2 separate regions of the Homo sapiens genome follow, and region 2 is linked to region 1. The links come from fine-mapping of genetic effects on gene expression. Tissue or cell type: whole blood. Region 1 holds a variant in brackets; the other region holds the start of a gene. All regions are shown on one strand. Distances are between the middles of the regions.

Region 1 (8,133 bases):
TGTCCATTTCTAAGCACATTTGGCAAATTTGCCTATATACATGCTTGTTTACATAAGCAATTAAGCTTATTTTAATACTTTCATAAGGTTAGTAAGGTAAGTCCTCTGCAAAAACATCATGCTAAATACAAATGCATTCACAATTCTTTGATATGGATAACTGAAAGTTGGTTGTATTTTCACAGGCACATTATAATGTAATGAATAAGTTGCCCTTATTTCCACTAAAATATAAGACGGGAGACCTATAAGCTATTACGGTTGTTTAATATAGACTCTGTTCTAAATTAGGAATTATTAGAATCTGGCAGATAGCATAATTCCTATAATCTATAATTAATTTGCCATCACATTTCTTATTGTTACAGGCAATGATACTGTCACACTCAGTATTTTAGATAAGCTATTGCAAAATAACCAAAAAAGAATTTGAACTTTATTTGTAGAGCACCTGTCTCTTAGGAGAGTGGAAACTAGTCTTCAAGTACTTAGAATGTCATGAACTTTGTGTGATGAAAAATACTTCTTTTTTTAAATGATGAAGATAGTATTGTTAAGAGAAAAACCATGATCTTCTCACCACCAATTTTTCACTGTTAAACTGGCTGGTAGTATGGCAGGAATCTACTGTTACTGAGTAGATTTAAAGTGCTTGATTATGTAGTTATGCAGAGTTTTTCAGCGTTTCAGATTCTTAATTAAAAATGTTTTGGGAAAGAGCAGAGTAAAATAACCTTGTAGTATTTAGTGTTTACATTGTAGTGCATGTCATGCTTATTAATGTATTTAGTCCTTTTTTTGTGAAATGAAATACCCCTAAAGTGGAAATGGTTATAACTGACTAAAATCATACTTGAATGGTGGGTAAAATTTTCTAGCACATTTAGAAGAGAAAATACTAATTTCTTTTTTATGGCCTTGTTCTTTAAAAATTGATGGGTCACAAACTTAGTCTAAATAGATATAAACGTTTTATTTCAGAATTAGTCTAGTTCTTCTAAAAGTCTCATGCAAAGGAGTAAGCAGATTTCCTTAATAAGGCCATGTTTTTCAGCACTGTATCTGTTAGACCTCTGATGATTTTCGGTTGTACTTGTCCATATCCTTTAACCTGTGTTTTATGTGCCATTGTATATTTTTCTATTACCCTTCCACTAGGATTTGGAACTAGCTCTGGTTTTGGATGCAGCACCACAGGGGCCTCCACATTTGGATTTGGAACAACAAATAAACCCTCAGGAAGTCTTAGTGCAGGTTTGTGTGTTTCTGCCTGGATTTCAGGCAAATTTAAAGGTGTAAATTATTTAATTTAAAAGTATGTGTTGTTATTTCCAGTAACCCAAAAAGTTCCCTCCCTGATTCAGTTTTTACTCCCTGGATGAAGTGTGCAAGCCTAACTAATCATTTTACTTTATCTCTCTCATAAACTAAAGGGCAGGTTTGTAAAATACTTCTAACAAGACTTCTTAGTTTGATTTAATAATTAATTACATCTTCTAACTCAGAGATTCATTTGAACTCTAGTGACTAACTTCATGGTTAAATAATTTTCTTCATTATTACAAAAAGGAACCCATCATTGTGAAAGTTTAAGTTTTTTGTCATAATTCATCCTGGAGAATGATTTCTATTCCAGGGTCCCTCTGGTTTTAAGAATACCACAGTCTTACAAATGATTATTAATTTAGTTTCTTGTTCATTTTTGAAATAGGTATAATTTTTTGACTCTTCTTATGAAAAATTCCAAATTTCATCTACTTTTGCATTTATATTGGTAAATATGGCTTGTTTTAATGTGCAGTGCTTAGGGACAAATACCATATCTAATGTAATGACATAATACTGTGAAAGATGTGTTTAAATTTAGAGAATTTGAAGGAATTAAGTAGCGTTTAAAATCAGCAGTTCCAGTGGAGGAAGATAATAATAGGATTCCATGTTATCAGGATTATAATTGAAATATTGTATTAGTTAACTAGGCAGTAGTAGTACTAGATCTTAATTTTGCAAAAGCTCTTATAAAATCAAAACAGTAAGTACTGCTCTTTTGTTTGTTCATTGTCTTGAACATTGTGGGTTGAAGCTTTCCTGGAGGACTTGGGATTGCAAGGGTAGGTCCAGATATGTGAATGTCTCTCTTCTACATGTTGATAAAATGTTTTTGGTGGGTCTAAGGAGGAAGGCACCTTGACATATTTAATTAACAGGAAAGTTTCTGGCAACTTGAAGTTTATATAGATTTTAGTAATTTGTGCTAAGGTTTCTCTTTTGACCTGCATCACTACACTCTCTTTCAGGGTGCCACTTAGTTGTTAGCTATATTATTTTCCTGTTAAAATTTCATGTTAGAAATTTAGGGCTTTAATATATTTGCTATTCTTACAGATTATGTATTCTTTTAGATAGAAATTTACTGCTCCTCCCTGTTTTTATATTTGTTTTTGGAATTCAACTTCTGATATGAATATTTTTTTCCCTAAACATAAGGCTTTGGCAGCTCAAGTACATCTGGGTTTAACTTCAGCAATCCTGGCATCACGGCATCAGCTGGTTTGACTTTTGGGGTGTCCAATCCTGCCTCTGCAGGTTTTGGAACAGGAGGACAACTCCTTCAGTTGAAGAAACCTCCAGCTGGAAACAAAAGAGGAAAAAGATAAACATGGGTTGATGTGTTGAGAGAATCCATAGCAGCACCGTTCATTCTATGAGTCTATTTTTCTAATGATGCAGTAATTAAATTGCATCCCAGGAGATTTATAAAGTTTTGATATTTTTCCCTACTCTGGAATTTGAACTTTCTTCATGTTTGCCATACTGAACATCTTTTTTCTTGTGGAATTTAAAGTCCAGCTGTGTTTTCTTTTTAATTTGATTCTCAGTGTAAGAAATGTTCTGATTACATCACTGATTGGTAATGGTTAGAAACCATTAACCTAAAACTTACTATTTAACCTAGTGTTTTTGTTGATGAGGTTTACATTATGTGAATACATGCACATTTGTTTCTTATACAGGTGGTGTGAACTCTAGGGCCTATACTAGAATCAATTTGTTCCTTGTTAAAGGCCTTTTGAATTATACTGCAGGGCATCTTGTGAATATGTATGTAAATATATACAGAATAATACACACAGTTGTGTGTGCATATAAAATACATATTTACGCCAGGCGTGGTGGCTCACGCCTGTAATCCCAGCACTTTGGGAGGCCGAGGCAGGCGGATCACCTGAGGTCAGGAGTTTGAGACCAGCCTGACATGGTGAAACCCCATCTCTACGAAAAATACAAAAATTAGCTGGGCATAGTGGCGGGTACCTATAATCCCAGCTACTCGGGAGGCTGAGGCACGAGAATCACTTGAAGCCGGGAGGTGGGGGTTGCAGTGAGCCGAGATCACACCACTGCACTCCAGCCTGGGCAACAAGAGCAAAACTCCGTCTCAAAAAAGATGAAAATAAAATAAAATATATATTTACAGGCCTACAACTTTTGCCTCAGACTGTTCCCCTTTTCTAAGGGTATTCAAGTTTTCACCTTTTAAGCTTCATATCCTCAGTGCTTGTAGAATGATGAGCTTAGAGGTACCAGGTCATTGCAGTTGTTTGCTTAAAGACTTATTGAAATGGTTACTGGCGTAAATACTTGGCCAACTCAACTTTATTGCCCCTGATCTTTTCCATTTTTGTTTCCACCTTAACCTATAGCAGCTCCTCCAAATGAGGAATGCTGTAAGTAAGACTCATCAAACAGATTTTAACCATTTTATTATCCTGTGTGTCCTTACATTGCTTCTGTGAGATGTTTTTTTCTTATCTGAGATGAACTTTCAGGAGCCTATTTGAACTCCAGACTGGTGTTCTGGGGCAAAGAGCTATTAGCCAAACTGATTCTATGCAGGTGAAGGATGCACTAAAGTTCTCACTTTAGTGAGAACTTTTCTAGCTATTCCAATACAGAGTTCTTTCTTATAGGGCTATTGATATTGACACCAAATGGAGTGGCTTCTCAGCCTCTTAATGTCTTAAGTAAGTGCTTAATTTGGAATAGAGAAACCAGTATATTTTAAAAAAGAAAAATATTCTTTGTAGCAACTGTAAATTCTCCCATTATAACAGTGAACAGAGCTCCAGGTAATAACGCATAGGCATGTCAGGTTGCATCTGTATATTTGACTACATTAGTATTAGTGACATCAGGTGGATATAAAAGAAAACCCTTGGAAAGAGAACTGCCTTAGCCATGATTTCGTTAGTAGACCTATTTATGATTCAATTGCAATTTTCAGATAGGATGTGAACATGGAATTTCATTGAAAATAGTTTAATTTTTTATATAAAAGGTTTTGTATATAATGTGTGTCAGTGACTATTTTCAAAATCATTTTCATCAAGACACCTTTTTTCTAAAATAGGCATTGCATACACATATGCACACGTATGTGCA[T/C]GTGCCACACATTTTTTGTATAATGTTGGGTTTGATTATAAAAGTGTTGTCAAATGTTTTATTTATCTGCATATAGCAGTGGTTGGCTTTTTTGAATTGAAATTTTTGCGCATTGATGCATTGAAATAAGGAAAATTATTTATCTCTGAGCACTAAACTTATTTTTGCATATTTCTGTAATATTGCAGTCCCCAGATCCAGAACATGGGAAGTTAGGGAAAATGTGTGATTTTGTGTTTTGAATTACTGTCAGAATTACATACACAATTACAACAAACTTTTTTTAAAAGACATTTCATTGTACTGCAAAAATCTGAATATTTATATTTCTTGTTTTTTTCTTTATATGTTTTGCATTTTAATATGTTGAGCCACTGGAAATTTGTAACAGATTAATTTGTTATAGGAGTTTAAATGTGTTGTCATTGTCTCCATTGTCTTTGTCCAGAGCCTATTATTATGGAAACAATAAAATTTATTGTGTCAGTTGCTTTGATTCTTTATAGGTGTCAGTAGCTGTTCTTAATATGTAATTTTATTATTGCTCTTTTAGTCTCCGGTTGGGTTTTAGTATATTCCCTTCATTGGTTTATACATCTTGCTCTTTTTTAAACAGAAGAGTGAACATAAGATAGTAAATTATTTCTCACTTGCTTTTGTCTTCTCAAAATGACAAAAACAGTGAACATTTTTAGTTATAAAGAATAATATTGAGTAAAAAAGGAAAAATCCCTTTGAACTTTTGGGCCCTAATTCCCTTCCATTTCCTAGTGTGCAGTCTGATGGTTTGATATGTATCCTTGTAGACCCTTTTAAATATGTCTTAAAAGAATATATAAATGTTACTTCTCTTTTCTTTTTCTTTTATATTCTCTCTGATTTTTTATCACATTTTATTCTCTTGGATCCCTCTTTACTTTTTTAACAAATAGGTTAAAAAGTTTGTGTTCTGGACTTGTTCTTTTTCCCTTCTATTAGTATATCATCAGCATCTTTCTGTGTCTATATAGATTTACTTTTTACATACTGTCCCATAGAATGGGTGTACAATGATCTGTTTCAACTACTGTGTGGTTTTTTTAGGAAATGTAATTTTTTAAAATTTTTTTTATTTCCATAGATTATTGGTGAACAGGTGGTATTTGGTTGCATGAGTAAGTTCTTTAGTGGTGATTTGTGAGATTTTGGTACACCCATCACCTGAGCAGTAGGCGCTGACCCAGTTTGTAGCCTTTTATCCCTCACCCTCTTCCCACCCCTTCCCCTCTTAAGTTCCCATAGTCCATTGTATCATTCTTAATGCCTTTGTATCCTCATAGCTTAGCTCCCACTTAGAGAACATAGGATGTTTGGTTTTCCATTCCTGAGTTTCTTCTCTTTTTTTAAATTTTTATTTATTTATTTAAATTTATTATTATTATACTTTAAGTTTTAGGGTACATGTGCACAATGTGCAGGGTAGTTACATATGTATACATGTGCAGTTTCTTCTCAGAGTAATAGTCTCCCAATCCCATCCAGGCTGCAAATGCCATTAATTCATTCCTTTTTTTTTTTTTGAGATGGAGTTTCACTCTTGTCGCCCAGGCTGATGCCATCTCGGCTCACTGCAGCCTCTGCCTCCTGGGTTCAAGCAGTTCTCCCTCAGCCTCTGGAGTAGCTGGGATTGCAGGCATGATTACGCCTGGCTAATTTTTGTATTTTTAGTAGAGATTTAAGTAGAGATGTATTTTACCATGTTGGCCAGCCTGGTCTCAAACTCCTGACCTCAGGTAATCTGCCCGCCTCGGCCTCCCAAAGTGCTGAGATTATAGGCGTGAGCTACCATGCCCAGCCAATTCATCCATTCCTTTTTAGTGGCTGTGTAGTATTCCACATATATATGTATATATATATATATATATATACACATATATATATACGCACACACACACATACATACACACACACACCCCACACCAACTATTCTCTGGATGGTTAGGTTCATTTGACTATTTCAGTTTCTTCGGGGTTGATTCTGGAAATAAATTGCTGAAAAGTCATATAAATTGTGTGTTTTAATGTCACATTGCCTTCCCAAAATGCTATACAAATATATACTCCTACCAGCATGTATATCCATTTCCTAGTATTCTTTGTGATCCCAGTTAATTGTAATCCTAATTATAAGTCTTTGTGAGGTCAACCTTTTTAATATGTATCAGCTATTTGTATGTTAATGTAATTGCTTATTATATCCTTTGGCAATTTTTATACCAAATTAGGGTTTTTTCTTAATGATTTGTAGGACCTCTGTAGATAATAGGTATTAATATTTTTCCTGAGAGATATGTCTAGTCAGCTGTGTTCAGAATCCCGCCTTGACCATGTGTGATTTTAAGCAAGTTATGTAACTTCTAGACTTCAGCTTTATCCTCTAGAAAATAAGGATGATATACATGGGTGGTTATACTAATAATATAATCTAAAGCATTTGGATAGTGTAACCCCTGACACCTGAGAAGCATTAGGTCTTCCTGCACCAATACCCCACTGCCTTAATCATTGTAGCCGGATGCTTTATTTGTATACCTGATAGGAAGCTGCTTTATCTTAGCCTTTTTGTTTGTTTTTGTGTGGGGAGGCTATTCTAGGACACTTAGTCTTTAAGATGAACTTTAGTGTCTATTTTATTGAGTTTGATTTTTCTTTAAAAATTCTGAGATTTTTATTGGATTTACACAAAATACGTCCTGGGGGAAATTGACAACAATAAGCACAGCATGATACATGCATCTGTTGGGTCTTTTGTTCTTTTAACAAAGTTTTTATTAGATTCTTGTTTGATTATTTTTACTAACCATCTTGATTTGAATTGAGTGCAAATTTTTATCCTGTAGTAGGTATGAGGTCATTTACATTATTACAACCAGTTATTTCCTGTCCTTTCTGATGATAATATAGTAAATCCGAGTTAATGTCCTACCTTTTCTGTGAATAAGGCTGACTTTGCCACACTTTTTGAAGCACACACCAAGACAGGCTTATTCAGTCACAGGATTCTGGGCCTTGCTAACATGAGCCAGTGTCCTGGGAAGTCTTGAGTTGGCATACCTAACTTAAATCTCATGCACAAAGTCCTCTTTGCCTCTTACATCACATCCCCATTTATTGGGTGCATAGTCTGTCCTGGGTACCACTCAGCATTTTATATACTTGACCATGTTTAGTCTGAATATTACTGTGTAAAGCAGAAATACCCAATTTATAGATGAAGGAACTGAGGCTAAGGTTAAGCAACTTACTTGAGGTCGCATAGCTAAGTCATAGGGCTGGGTTTTAAACCCAGACCTGTTTAATTCCAAAGCACAATATTTTACTGCCTGTCTCTGATCAAGGAATAGCGTGCTGATTTTCATGACTAACTGAAAGGCACTGAAGGTAATGTGATTACACAGTTCATATGGGGGAAACTACAAGTATGTGATAGATCAGGGCAAAGTAAGGTAAGTACCTAGGTCTATGTGATTTAAAAGGAGAGGGAATACTATCTGTGGTGTAAAGAGCGTTATAAAGAAGCAAGAGCCGGACTTGTGCAGTCCATCTTTGACCTTTTCTTGCTGGTTCCCTATGAAGAGGTTTATGGAGAAAAGCATCATCCCAGCAACTGGATGATGGGGGCGGTGGGGGGGGGTCTGTCCACCTTGGAAA
Region 2 (8,133 bases), 40 kb before region 1:
TTGACAGTCATCCTATAATTTGCATTATTGATTTATCTCTCTATATACATTTGGTTGTTGCTGTTGTTCAATCACTTGAGAACTTAATGAATTTTTAAAGTGGAAGGACACTACTCAAATATTTAAAACCCTAAAATATTTAAGACCTTTTCTGAGAATAATTTTCAAGATAAAGACTGTGATTGAAGGCAAATGGTTACATGTAATTTCTAAAAGATAACCTCTTTTCTGGATATTTCAGAGGACCAGAACTGGAGATATTACAGACTCCTTTCAATAGACTTCAGATTCCCACTTCTTTTCTGTCTTAGAACCGCTGCTGAGAGAGGTTCTCAAATGGTTATCCTGATCTGAACACCCCCACCAAAGCAAACCTATTTTAGATATGTTAATGCAAACACAAATTAGAAGTTTTAGCCTGGGCAACACGGTGAAAACCCATCTTTACAAATAAACAAATTAGCCGGGCATGGTGGTGGACACCTTTATGTAGTCCGAGCTACTCGGGTGGCTGAGGTGGGAGGATCGCTTGAGCCAGACAGGCAGAGGTTGCAGTGAGCCAAGATGGTGCCACTGCACTCCAGCCTGGGCACAGAGCCAGACCCTGTCTCAAAAAGGAAGAAAAAAAAAAAGTAAATTTTTTACAGTGCTATTTCTGTTTGGATAATTCAGTTTGATTATGACATTAACAATGTCATCATCCTGCTGGCAAATCAGCAAAAGATGCAGTTCTCTAACAGAATGCTTACAATATAAGAAGCAAGGAAAGACAAGATGGCCTACTCTAGAATTTAGAATCTGAAGCACTTGCTTCATCCCTGGAAGCAGCAATTCACATAGAACTGACACATAGGTTCAAGTCCTCTAATGTTAAAAAGCGTAATATTTAGAAGATCCTTTGGGATAGGATTTGTTACTCTACCTAGACTAGGTCAGGAAGGTTAAGCCAGATTCCAGTGCTCCATGGTTCTGCTCAGTTGCAGATAGGATTCAGACTTATGTATGCGTAATGCTCAGTTACTGCTATTTTACTGTTTTCCATTCACTAACCAAACCATTGAGCTTATTGAAAGCTGCTTTCTTTGGAGTTTCATTTCTGTAGAATGTAAGGATGTAATTTCTTTCTTCACTAATAGGACAAGCGGCACAAGGTATATGAGATGAGAAGGGGTCTCCAAGATTTAGTCTTATACTTAGTGCATCTAGTGGTAGATTGCAATACTGCTCATCAGATATTCCAGATTTTGTCTCTGCAGTGCTCCTCCTTGAGTGATTTGGGGATTTATTATGTAGTATAACTTAAAATATTCTGCCAGATACAAGGCAAGAAATGCTACACTAAAATTTTGATAAAGTTGAAAGGATAGTTTGCTTGTTAATTGGAATGGCTTCCCCCAAAACCCAAACTTTAATCTAAGTCAGACTTCCTTTATTTCTTTTATAAACGTTCAGCTTCAAAACAGTTATAGATGTGGCTGGGCGCGGTGGCTTACGCCTGTAATCCCAGTACTTTGGGAGGCCGAGGCAGGCAGATCACAAGGTCAGGAGATTGAGATCATCCTGGCCAACATGGTGAAACTCCAGCTCTACTAAAAATACAAAAATTAGCTGGGCATGGTGGCGCATGCCTGTCATCTCAGCTACTTAGGAGGCTGAGGCAGGAGACTCGCTTGAACCAGGGAGTCGGAGGTTGCAGTGAGCCAGGATCTAGCCAGTGCACTCCAGCCTGGTGTCAGAGTGAGACTCCATCCAAAAAAAAAAAAAGTTACAGATTTACAGAATTATTACATAGTGTGCTCATATTCCTCACACCCAGTTTCCCCTATTAGGAAATTAGTCCCTATGATATTTTTACATGTTCTTTCTTTCCTGTGAATATTACAAGTCTTGTTCATTATTATATATTTAAGTGCCAGCCATTTTGCTATTACTAATTGTAGGTTGGTATTCTTCAATAGTTTTGGAAAGAATACACGAGAAAATCAAAAGACATAGGGAGTGCCTTTCTATCTTCCCATAAAAATCATCAGGATCTTTTTTTTTTTCAGTCAAAAGGAAGTCTCCTAGACTTTATGTGAACAATCCTCTTACTGACCACCCTATAGCCATCACTGAAAATAGCTTTCTCTATATCACCGAAGCTTTAAAACTCACAACAATCTTTTATTTTTGCCTCCTGTTCGATAACTATGAAGTTTTTATTTATATCTTAATCCAAATATATCCCTTTTTTCTTTTTTATCATTCCCATTATGACTTCTATGACGTTTAAAATGTTATGGCCGGGCACAGTGGCTTACGCCTGTAATCCCAGCACTTTGGGAGGCCGAGGTGGGCAGATCGCTTGAGGCCAGGAGTTCAAGACCAGCCTGGCCAACATGGTGAAAACCCATCTCTACTGAAAAATACAGAAATTAACCGGGCGTGGTGGCGTGCGCCTGTGATCCCAGTTACTTGGGAGGCTGAGGCAGGAGAATCGCTTGAACTCAGGAGACGGAGGTTGCAGTGAGCCGAGATGGCACCACTGTATTCCAGCCTGGGCAACAGAGCGAGACTCTGTCTCAAAATAAAGTAAAATATAAATTAAATTTAAAAAACAAAATAAAATGTACGTTTCTTTTTAATTATACAAACACAGAGGTGGTGTATTAGTCTGCTTGGCTGATACAACAAAATACCATAGACTGAGGTGGCTATAACAACAGACATTTACTTCTCTCAATTCTGGAGGCTAAGTCCCAGATAAAGATGGGGCAGTTTGGGTTCCAGGTGAAAGCCCCTTCTTGCTCTGTCCTCACATGGCACACAGAGGAGAACAAGCTCTTCGTTGTTTTTTCTCATAAGGGCACTAATCTCGCCATGGGCGACCCACCAAGGTGACCTCATCTAAATTGAATTACCTCCCAAAGGCTCCATCTCCAAATACCAACATATTGGGGTGGGGTAGGGCTTTAACATATGGATTGGGGGAGGAGGGAAATAGTTCAGTCCACAGCTGGTGGCAATGCCCAAGCTCAACGGAAGATTAAAGTACTGAATTAGGGAGAACTGTGAGATGAGGTTAGAAAGACTAATCATACGGAGGTCATCAAGTGCCAAACTAAAGAGCCACTGGGCTTTTTAGATCATAAATCCGGGGGTTGCTTATGGGATGGATTTTGTTAGAGATCACGAGTAGGAAAACCATTTGGGGGAGTAATGTAACAATCCCTGAGGGAAAAATAAAAACTAACACTATGATGACAACCCTCGAATGCACCACCACCAGGAAGCCTTTCCTGATGCTTCGCCAGAGAGGTTCTCTTTAAACGCGAATTTTTCTTGAGTTATCCTAGAAATGTAAGTTACACCTCACATTTCGCCTTCTTTCGTACATGTTCCTGTGCGTTTCCTAATCCTTCCACTTTGTAGTTCCTCCAGCACCGGTTGTGTCCGAGGGCCCTTCTGGCGGAGCCACACTCGCTCGGCCCAAGGTCCCGCCCTCCAGCATCAGGATGCACGGACAGTATTTGTGGACTTGACCGCATCCCAGGAAATCCAGCGGGCCTGGCCACTTCTGGGCGCCAGGACCACAGCCGGCCACCCCACGGACGCCTGGGACGCTCTTCTGGGCCCCCTTCGGGGCTGGGCGTCGGGCTCGCAACAACTGCGACCAACTGGCTCCGCGAGGCCTGGGGCGCAGGGGTGGGGCTCACGTCGTGGGACGGTTGCATGGATTATTTTCGATTGATTTCCGAACCTTCAGGAAGCAGACACGCTCCCCTTCCTTCTTAGGGATGGGGCGGCAGCCAACGAAAGCCCGAAGCCGCCTCCTTTTCTGAGTGGGGAGCTTAGAGATGCTCAGGAGGGACCTCCCCGATTCTGCGATTCTGAGCATCAATTTTGGCAGGAGGCTAGATAGAAGTAGCAATTGACATTCATCACCCTAAAGTGCGGATTATGTCAGTACAGATGCTACGATAGAAGAACTAAAAAATGACAGAAATGGTTTTACTGTTTTTAAACTCTGGGAGCCTACTCCTTTAAGAGATTAGGCAGTACGCCTATTCTCGCCTGGTCCCAGCGTACCTTGCGCGGCTCGCCGTCCCCCACTCACGTACCAGGGCTCATTGCGTGACGGTTACACTTCCGGCGGGCTACGTGCGCGCGGCGAGCGCCGGGCGTACTTTTGCGTGGTTGCTCCACCCCCTCAGCCTTGCCTTCGCCGCCGTTGGGGCTGGAAGTTCCCGCCAGGTCCGTGCCGGGCGAGAGAGATGCTGCCCGGCCCGCCTCGGCTTTGAGGCGAGAGAAGTGTCCCAGACCCATTTCGCCTTGCTGACGGCGTCGAGCCCTGGCCAGACATGTCCACAGGGTTCTCCTTCGGGTCCGGGACTCTGGGCTCCACCACCGTGGCCGCCGGCGGGACCAGCACAGGCGGCGTTTTCTCCTTCGGAACGGGAGCGTCTAGGTAACCGCACTTTCTCGCCTTCCTGGGCCGGATTCACCCCCACCCCCACCCCCGCAAAGCTCCCTTGGTGTCCCCATCCTGTCTCTTCCCTCTGGCTTCCTTCCCAGTGGGGCTGGAGAGAAGCACTTAATCTAGCCGCCCGGCGTCGTAGGCCTCTCGCCGCGGTACCCGGGCCCAGCGCGGCCTGGTGAAGTGGAGGGCGGGATGGGTTCTGTGCTGTGAGGTTTCCAGAATCCACGTATAGTTCAGGCATTATTTGGACCTAGTGGGGTCTTGACTGCGTGGAAGGGCCTTGGGGTCTACCCCGGAGCTTTAGCGATGTGTCAGTCTTAGGCATAGAATGAACATTGAATGAATGAATGAAATTATAGCATACTGTGGAGTTTTATGATAGATAATTCCGATTTCATTGCAGCATTTGCGGTTTTGGATATGACGGTGTTTTAATAACTTTGTGGTTTTTAACCAGCTTTTCAAGCTTTTGTGCCACATGGGACCTTATCTGTTTTTGTTAAAAAAAACAAAAACACTTTTTTACAGTGTTTATTAGTGGTAATTTTCTGCAGTATGTGCAGATTAGTATATCTGATGCGAGAATGTTGTGTTGTAATAACTCAATTTGTCTTTTACTTAAATTACAAAACGTAGGTAGCATGTTCCTTGTTTTTGTGCAACCCATTAGTTCAGGTGGCGACAAAAACATAACTATCCAGAAAGAAACAAAGTGGTGAGACATTTTAATGAGAGATTTAAGCTTTAGAACTCAATTTTTTTTAAGATAAAGGTGGAGGGGTTCATAAAGTTAAGGAGTGTGCACACTGTCAACAAGATACTTCCTGAAGCTTAAAAGATGTGGCTGTAGATTTAAAAGGCAAATACTTAAGCATGACCTGCAGTTTAAAAAGGGAGGGAGGAGGAACCACGGACTACACAGTCAATTCAGAAATTTGAATTTTCATCCATACCTCCGTTATTCTTACTCTACTCGCTCAACAACAGGTTCTGATAATGTTACTTCTGCCATTTCTGTTTGTCTTTATTTCCAGTTCCACAACCCTGCTTAGGCTATTGTCATTCGTGGAACAAATATTTATTGGACAGATTCCCATGTGCAAGGCTCTGTTTTAGGTATTAAGAGTCTTGCTCTCTTGATCCTTACATTCTTATGAAAATAATTTTGATTCTTGTCAGATTTTTAACCAGCTGTCTTTCTTGTTTTAGATGAAAACTACTCCAATCAACTTCTTCAATCTGTTCTGCCACATTTTAGCCAGAGTAATTGAAAAACAAAATTCCCATTGCTCTCTCTTTAATCATTACCCGCCATCGTTAGAATGAAGTTTAAAAAAGAAAAAAAAACTTACCATAGTCTGCAAGGTCCACTTCTGCTGGAACCTCTGGGGACTCATCTTGAGCGGGACTCATCTTGAGCCCATCTTTTTATTTTAGCTATGCAGACCCACTGTTAAAAACAAACACACAACTACCACCCTAAATAACTGAAATGAAGTTTCAGAGAAAGATACCCTTACTTCATGGGATGCACTTTGATATTTTCTATTTCTTTTTTTTTTTAATGTTGCTTATGACTTGATGAATTAATTTTTATATTTCTCTCATGGTCCTGATCTTAGAAAGCCTGTCCTAGCAACATGGCCTTTTCTCTTTTCAAGTGGGCTTTGCCAGCCCCTTCCTTGCAAATATCAAATGGTCTCTTCCCCAGAGAGGCCTTTTCTGACCTGTCAGTCTAGGGGAGATTTCCATTCTCCTAGTACTCTTAGAGTGCTGATCACAATTGTAATCAGTTTGTTATATTTATTGTTAACTTGTTTGTTGTCAGATCTCAGCACTAGAATAATTAATACCTATGTCTCTCACTGACTAGAAACTGCCTGAGGGCAAGGTCTGAGTCTTAATTTCCCACCTCATTGTCAGTCCCAAGGACAGTGCCTGGCATAGAAAAAGGGCTTTAATAACAATTTGAATGACTGAGCAAATGAGTTATTAGTAATAAGCTATAAAAAATTACCCAAGTTTTAGAGAGGCTTGGATAAATTAATGAAAGAGGAGACTGTCCGACATAAATTTGTTAGAGTGCTGGTTGGGAGGCCTGACAGCCCCTAGTGCCACCTAGTGATTTGATGTCTTGAGGTTGGTCATTTTAGGGGAGTTCTCACATCTGGAAAAGGAGTATAATATATTACCTGAGTTGATGAGTGAGATGAAGTATTTAAATATTTAGCATCAAGTCTGGCACTTGCTAAGTGCTCAGTAAATCTTAGCTATTATGTTAGCTACCAAGTCTGCATTAGGGCAAGCTGGGCAAGTTAAAATAACATTCCAGATGTGATTGAGTCAAGTTGGCTTTTCTACAGTACATCCTATCAAGTCCTTGGCAGATAACATTGGTTTGAGGCAATAATTGGTCAAGTTTAGGGTAGCTTTTGCTTTTCTTGAATTTAGTAAATTTCACTGCCACCAAAATTTCTCTCTTGCTTTTGTGGTAGAGAAAAATTTCATTTTGATGTGTTTCTTTGGCAGTATTTTCAACTTTCATTATGTAATACTTCATAATGTCTTCAGTTATGTTGTCAAGATTATATATATATATATATATATATATATATATATATATATGTATTTTTTTTTTTTTTTAAGACAGTCTCACTCTTGTTACCCAGCCTGGAGTGCAATGGCGTGATCTTGGCTCATTGCAACCTCCACCTTACGGGTTCAAGCAATTCTCCTGCCTCAGCCTCCCAAATAGCTGGGATTACAGGCACGCCACCACACCCGGCTAAATTTTTTATTTTTATTTTTGGTATTTTTAGTAGAGATGGGGTTTCACCATGTTGGCCAGGCTGGTCTCAAACTCCTGACTTCAGGTGATCCATCCACCTTGGCATCCCAAGGTGCTGGGATTACAGGCGTGAGCCACCACACCCAGCCGGCAGTAATGTTTTAGTATCCCCCAAATACTCATTTACCCTACTCCACATTATACACACAACAGTGTCAAAATAACAATACGATCAGACTACTACCAGCTAAGCTAAATGTTTTGGCATATATGCCCCTTTTATGGTTGTACTACCTATGTTGTCTGGATATAGCCATTACATACTATATTCTTTTGCTTGTAGCGCTCACTTAGGTTTCTGTGTGTGTGATCTCACTTAGTTTTGATTGTAGCAATATGTTGTTAAAAATACCTTTTAAATTAAGACTAAATGTTTAAAGATCTGTGGGGTTTTTTTTTTTTTTTTTTTTTTTTTTTTTTTGAGACAGGGCCTTGCCCTGTCTCCCAGGCTGGAATGCAGTGGCGCAATCTCAGCCCGCTACAACCTCCACCTCCTGGGCTAAAGTGATCTTTCCACCTCAGCTTCCTGAGTAGCTGGGATTACATTCAGGTGTGCATTGGCACGCCTGGCTAATTTTTGTTTTTTGGAAGTTTTTTGTTGTTGTTTTTTCGGTAGAGAGAGTTTCACCATGTGGCCCAGGCTGGGCTCAAGCTTCTGGGCTCAAGCAGTCTGCCTACCTCAACCTCCCAAAGTGCTGGGATTACAGGTGTGAGCCACCCGGCCTGGTCAAGATCTGTGTTTTAATTGTTAGCGAGAGCTTACCGCCCTGCTTTGTCTCCTGCCTCGCCTTCATATGCCCAAGGTGCACACAAACACATTTTAAAA

What was found. PIP is the estimated chance that this variant, and not a neighbour inherited with it, causes the effect.
Region 2: NUP58 starts here. The variant in region 1 is fine-mapped to the expression of NUP58 in whole blood (TOPMed, PIP above 0.99).

What each region holds. Positions count from the first base shown.
Region 1 is chr13:25,337,478-25,345,610 of GRCh38, forward strand. It overlaps NUP58 (nucleoporin 58), which reads left to right. Exons shown (of 16, transcript NM_014089.4): 15 at 1,159-1,254; 16 at 2,488-4,944. The coding sequence ends at 2,657. Among named protein-coding and RNA genes, the nearest start is that of ATP8A2, 30 kb to the right of the region's middle. RefSeq lists an enhancer at 1,965-2,134. The variant T/C (reference allele first, on the strand shown) is at 4,444.
Region 2 is chr13:25,297,434-25,305,566 of GRCh38, forward strand. NUP58 (nucleoporin 58) reads left to right here and starts at 4,192. Exons shown (of 16, transcript NM_014089.4): 1 at 4,192-4,447. The coding sequence starts at 4,341. RefSeq lists enhancers at 3,848-4,087, 4,248-4,327, 4,438-4,487.